Regions from separate parts of the Homo sapiens genome. Here region 2 is linked to region 1. The links come from fine-mapping of genetic effects on gene expression. A gene starts in region 1. The other region holds a variant in brackets. All regions are shown on one strand. Distances are between the middles of the regions. Region 1 holds the start of SERPINC1 (serpin family C member 1). Region 2 overlaps RABGAP1L (RAB GTPase activating protein 1 like).

Evidence for each region. PIP is the estimated chance that this variant, and not a neighbour inherited with it, causes the effect. A credible set is the group of variants that fine-mapping cannot tell apart.
Region 2: its variant is the best candidate, but not a certain one, in a credible set for the expression of SERPINC1 in esophagus mucosa (GTEx, PIP 0.88).

The regions. Positions count from the first base shown.
Region 1 is chr1:173,916,161-173,919,073 of GRCh38, forward strand. SERPINC1 (serpin family C member 1) reads right to left here and starts at 1,167. Exons shown (of 7, transcript NM_000488.4): 1 at 1,059-1,167. The coding sequence starts at 1,099. It overlaps LOC124904457 (a long non-coding RNA gene), which reads left to right and starts at 340. Exons shown (of 2, transcript XR_007066739.1): 1 at 340-780.
Region 2 is chr1:174,247,043-174,249,955 of GRCh38, forward strand. The region is part of intron 5 of RABGAP1L (RAB GTPase activating protein 1 like); the gene reads left to right. Among named protein-coding and RNA genes, the nearest start is that of RABGAP1L, 89 kb to the left of the region's middle. The variant T/A (reference allele first, on the strand shown) is at 1,378.

The sequences.
Region 1 (2,913 bases):
TCGATGAAGCAAATCAAGAGATAAAGTCTCTTGTAATATTTTTTGTAGATAAGACAGGGTGGGGCAGGGGCTGCCTCCAGCTGGTTTATGGTTCCTGCGTGTACACAAGGGGGTCTGTGTGTGGGTACTGGATCTTCCCATCTTCTCCTGGGAGAGAAAGACAGGCACCCAGTGCAGATTCACGGACGTGGTCCGTTGGGCAAGCCTGGGGCTGGCTGGAAGCTGGGGCAGCTGAGGGGGACTTGCCTTCTTGCGTGGTCTGAGTCCAGTTCTGCAGCCCTTTCAAGAACAGAGGTGCAAAGCCGGAGAGAAGCAGCGGCACCAAGGGAGATGTGGAAGGCAGGCTGAAGAAGCAGAGAGAGAGAGGAGAGGACCCTGCCATTCATCTTCCCATCTCCACTGCCTTCGGTTGCCCACTCTGTCCTTCAACTACATTTGGAAATGCAATTTGAGGCTGAGAGGACCCTGGGAGGGCTATGAAGCACAAATTAAAACCAAGACAGTTGTGCCACCACCCCGTTTCTAGCCTCCTGTGACAACTCAGATGAAGAAGGGAGTGTGTGTGGCATTGAGGGAGGGACAACTCTCATTGTGAGAAAAGGAAGCAGTTTTGGCCCTTTAGTCAAAGGTCACTGGGATTTGGGTGGGGGTGGAGTGGGGTGGATCTGAGTGGAAGAAAGAGCAAAAAGGGAGTGAGGAGGTCCTCATGGGTAGCATTTGCTCTCTTCCCGGATGGATGGCAGGCCCTGGGGATTCCCCTTGGAGCGTCCCCTGGATCCCGTGAGTGCTGACTTCCTGCACAGCATCTTTACACCAGGGATGACATCCCCCTTGTTTCTTAGGCTAGGGACCCAAGGGGTAGCTTAGGAAAGGCCTTACCCCAAGAGGTGGGGTGGGAGGGAGAGCACTTGAAATGACGTCTTCCAAACAGGTCTTTGACTGTAACTACCAGGGAGAGGGCCTGGTCTTCTCAAAGGTGTTGGAGGTCATTCCTGTGAGTCCTTTGGAGGTCACAAAACCCAGTAGGGGCAGGCAAGGGGAAAGCTCACCCCTCTTACCTTTTTCCAGAGGTTACAGTTCCTATCACATTGGAATACATGGCCGCTAATCTTCCACAGGGCTGGGCAAGTGGAGATAGTGTGATCTGAGGCAATCCGCCTGAAAACTGGTTCTTTCCTCTAAATCTCGCAGAGGTTCCAGAGGACAGGGTGGGGCAGAGAGCTGGTCAGGAGGGGGAACTGAGGTCAAAGGCTGATGACCAGTTCCCAGGGTTAAGCAAAGTGTAGAGCCCAGTGTTGTTTAATTAGTAGAGAAGTTTTAAAGTTCAATCAGGCCCAGGGAAAGCCTGAGCCACCTCTCTTGCCCACACTCCCTCACTCTTCTCCTCAGCTTTATAGAAAAGGAAAAGGAGAGTATGTTCATACCCTCAAACTTGGTTAGGAAACTAACCAAGGAAACAAACTTGGTTCATACCCACCCTCTCTCATAGTTTTCTTTATGGAGAGAGGGAGAGAGAGAGAGAAATATCTAATTAGAGAAGGCAAAGAGGGACAAGCTGCTACCTTCAGGCATCTGAGTGCCAAGGTGTCCCTGGCACAGACAAGGAAAACACAATGGTTACACCTGTGGCCCACAGAGAGACCCATTCCCCAGCAGCCCTGAAGTGGTGGGACAGGGAGAGAAGAGCAGGGCCTCGGGGTGCATGCCAAGCGCGTTTCTAAGGGGTGTGAGCAGCTGGGAAATACTTAGCAAAACTCTACTGGGGGATCAGGAGACAGAATGCGGGGCAGGTGAAAAACCCACGTACAACTGCTGAAATAAAAACAAACTAAATTATATTTATGTGTATCGTTATTTTTATTAGTTATTGGGGAGATTGGGTAAATTCAAACTAGTGGAGATAAAGGGCAGGTTTGTTTACATTTCCCTCTTCTGAAATAGCCAAAAGCACCATCACAAGGACTGCAGCCACCAAGTTCACAGGGCGCATGTGCCTCCTGCTGTGTGATCAAGGACTCCTTGTAGTTGTTGTTGCAGTCATAGGCATTTTCGAGAGCTCTTCGTTCATGAGAGAGGACATCTCTCCTGAACTGAAGCTGTGTCTAAGTTCTTGGCTGATTCAGACCCTGGATCCTTTGAAGCCCTCCATGTGCAGTGTGAACAGTAGCCGAGAACTGTCCCAAAGGGCCCCAGAATGCCCAGAGGCTCATCTGTCACCCTAGATTAAAGACTATTGAAAAGTCTCCTGTTCAACCACTTGAGTTCAACAAATACACGAGTGCTGCTTGTGCCAGCAGACACTGTTCTTGGGGCTGGGATTCCATTCGGGGGAGACATACAGCAATCACATAAAGAATCAGTATTTTAGGCCAAGCGTGGTGGCTCACACCTGTAATCCCAGCACTTTGGTAGGCTGAGGCAGGTGGATCACCTGAGGTCAGGAGTTCGAGACCGGCCTAGCCAACCTGGTGAAACCCCATCTCTACTAAAAATACAAAAAATAGCTGGGCATGGTGGTGGGCACCTGTAATTCCAGCTACTCAGGAGGCTGAGGCAGGAGAATCACTTGACCCCAGGAGGCAGAGGTTGCAGTGAGCCGAGATCGTGCTATTGCACTCCAGCCTGGGTGACAGAGCAAGACTCCATCTCAAAAAAAAAAAATCAGTATTTAAAAAATAAATATGTAACGTGCCAGTCAGATGTTAATAAGGTCCATAGAGAAAACTATAGCAGGGCAAGGATATAGGAAGCAGTGGGAGGAAGTGGGGAGGGCACCATCTGAGAACACTTGGTAGGAAAGGCCTCCCTTAGGAATCATTGTTAGGAAACCAGAATGAAATGATGGAGGGGGCCATATGAATATCTTTAGGAAGAGCTGTCCAAAGAGAAATCAGAAATACAAAGACCTTGAGG
Region 2 (2,913 bases), 330 kb after region 1:
CATTCTGTATCACTCTGGCTCAGCTCCATACGCTTAACCTTTCTATAAAGAATTTTTTGAAGCCTTGCCAGATGCTTTAGAATTTGCCAAGTTCTTTGACTTTTTTTGATATGGCCTTCTGATGTGACAAGCTGGCTGATCTGACATAAAGAATGTGAAAAAGAAGAGATGAGAAAGGGGAAAAAAGAATAAATATGGCTGGGGTTTAACTACCAATGTATGCAAAATTACATACAGGTGTTCTCCTGTTTTCACATACAGTGCTTTCTTAAAAATACGCTTAAGTCCGGGAGTAGCCAGAAAGAGTCATGGCCCAAAACCCCCTAACAGCAGTTAGTGTGGCATCTCCACAGTGGGGAATGTTGTAGGAGTTATTAAGAAATTATTTTAGGCATATAGAGATGAAAAGGGATCCTTGGGAAATTTTCATTTTTTAAAGCATCTCTGGAAAAGTTTCTTGTAAAGCCCCAGCTCTTAGAGCCAGGCCAGCAACCTATAATATACAAATGGTAGCCATTAGAAACCGGGTCCACCCAACATGGCAATTCCCAGGGCCTTCTTGCCCTTGCCCCACATGTTCCTGGCAACATGGCTGCCCACACATATCCTTGCGTGTGGAGAGCATCATGGTGCCCTGCATTTGCATATGAAAAGCTAGGGTGGGAGGGCCAGCTTTTTCCACCTGCTACGTGAATTGCATGCCTAGTCAAACCCATCCCATGAGCCCTATGCAAATCAGACATCACGTCCTCCAGCCTCTGCATATATACCTGGTTAGTATGCATGGCAGGTGGTGTTCTGTCTCTTGGCTTTGGAGCCCCTCTCCCTCTGTCTCTGTATGGGGAGCCGCTTTTTTTTTGCCCTTGTTTCTTGCCTATTAAACTCCCTGCTCCTTAAAACAAAACTAAATATACACTGAAGTTAAATGTATAAAAATCAGACAGTAGACTTTATATTTCATTTAGGAGTAGGAAGTGGAGAATACCCAGAGAACTAAAAGTAGTTTAAAGTCTCTATTTACACTTGACCTTGTAGGCATAGTCTTCAATGACATATTTCTAGCATATTCTTTGGTTCTGTTTTCCTCTATAAACACTTGAATTATTGGGCTAAATCCAGTAACTATCCAGCTGAGGCTGAACCTTTCTGTTTTTAGCTTATCTAATGATTCCCTCTCATCCATCCCCAAGCACATTCAACTTAATATTTGCTGGAGTACAGGCTGTATGTTCTCTCTTGTATTTCTGGCACCTAGACTAATACTTGGTATGCAGAAGGTGCTCAAATAATATTTGTTGAATGAATGAGTTTATTGTCTTAATTATATAAGTTTTGAGGCCTACAGTTCTTATTAGCATCAATCTTTTGCTGCTTTTT[T/A]AATTTTTACTCATATAAGATTAAAATGGGGATAGCATGGTAAAATAATGAAGAAATTTTGGGAACATTATGATATAAATATGGTGCTACTGCAGAAGTTGAACTTTAGACTGGCAGGTAGGATTTCTGTATAGTTGTTAAAAGTTAAAACTGTTAATTTGGCATTGAGAAGGCACTTTAGGGTAATCATTGGTTAATGGGTATAAATGTGGCATTCGGAAGTTTTTGAATGTGTTAGACTGTGTGTGCTTGTACAAGAAAAAGTGGCAGAATATGTGAATAAAACAAAGGAAAACAGAAGACCTCATACTTTAACAGACTCTTCTGTTATAGGGAGTATTCCTGTTTCAAGCAAGTTACAAATATTGTATTCCTAGACTAATACAGTTCAAGAAGTACTTTGAATTCACTTTATCTAAAGTGAGGGATTTATTAATGTTCACAGCATTCTTCTTATCTGTACTTCCCAATGTGACACATTGAAAATATTTTTTTAACCCTTCACATTTCACCTTGTTTTCTTTGTCAACCTATGCGTGGGCTGAGAGATTTGGAGAATCTTTGGTGCTTCAAGCTCACAAGTTTGTGATGATCTGATGCTTCTTTTGGAACCAAGAAGTAGAATAACTTCTGGAGAAGTGTTGGATTTAGAGTACTTCTTCACTTTAAGGAAAGAATATGAGCTATACACACAAATACACACACATATGTATATACATATATATGTATATATGTATGTATAAAAGTAGTCACTAGAGTGGCCTAATACCAATAGAATAGATAAGAATAAGACCATTTCAGCATTCATTCTGGGAACCCAACACTTATAGCACAACAACATTGAGTAAAAATACTGGTAGCTCTTTATGTTACTGACTGTATTGCTAAAGCCAGTATTTGCCTTATTCTATGGTTCTGTATCTAGCCCCTGAGGCTGAGGGAAGTGAAGAGAGAACTTGGAGACTTGGCCAAAACCTTGTTTGTGAGAGTGTGTTGGGAAGATTCAGATACCAATATCATTTTAGTAAATTATCTTAGGATACATTCAATTTCTTGTATATTTTGAAGCCTAGAAATATCTATAAATAAATACAGTTTATTTTGTGAACTTAAATTAGTTCAATATCTTTATCACCATGTTTAAATGTCAGAGTTGTGAGAAGCAAATATTTGAAAGATAGCTTTTTTTTTTTTTAAAGTAAAAGGAATTCCTTCTTTCTTTCTTTCTTTCTTTTTTTTTTTTGGAGACAGAGTCTTGCTCTGTCACCCAGGCTGGAGTGCGGTGGTGCAATGGCTCACTGCAACCTCCACCTGCCAGGTTCAAGCAATTCTCCTGCTTCAGCCTCCCGAGTAGCTAGGATTACAGGTGTGCACCACCATGCCCTGCTAATTTTTTGTATTTTTAGTAGAGATGGGGTTTCACCATGCTGGCCAGTCTGGTCTTGAACTCCTGACCTTGTGATCTGCCTGCCTTGGCCTCCCAAAGTGCTGGGATTACAGGCATGGAGCCACTGTGCCCGGCCCTCTTGCCCTTCT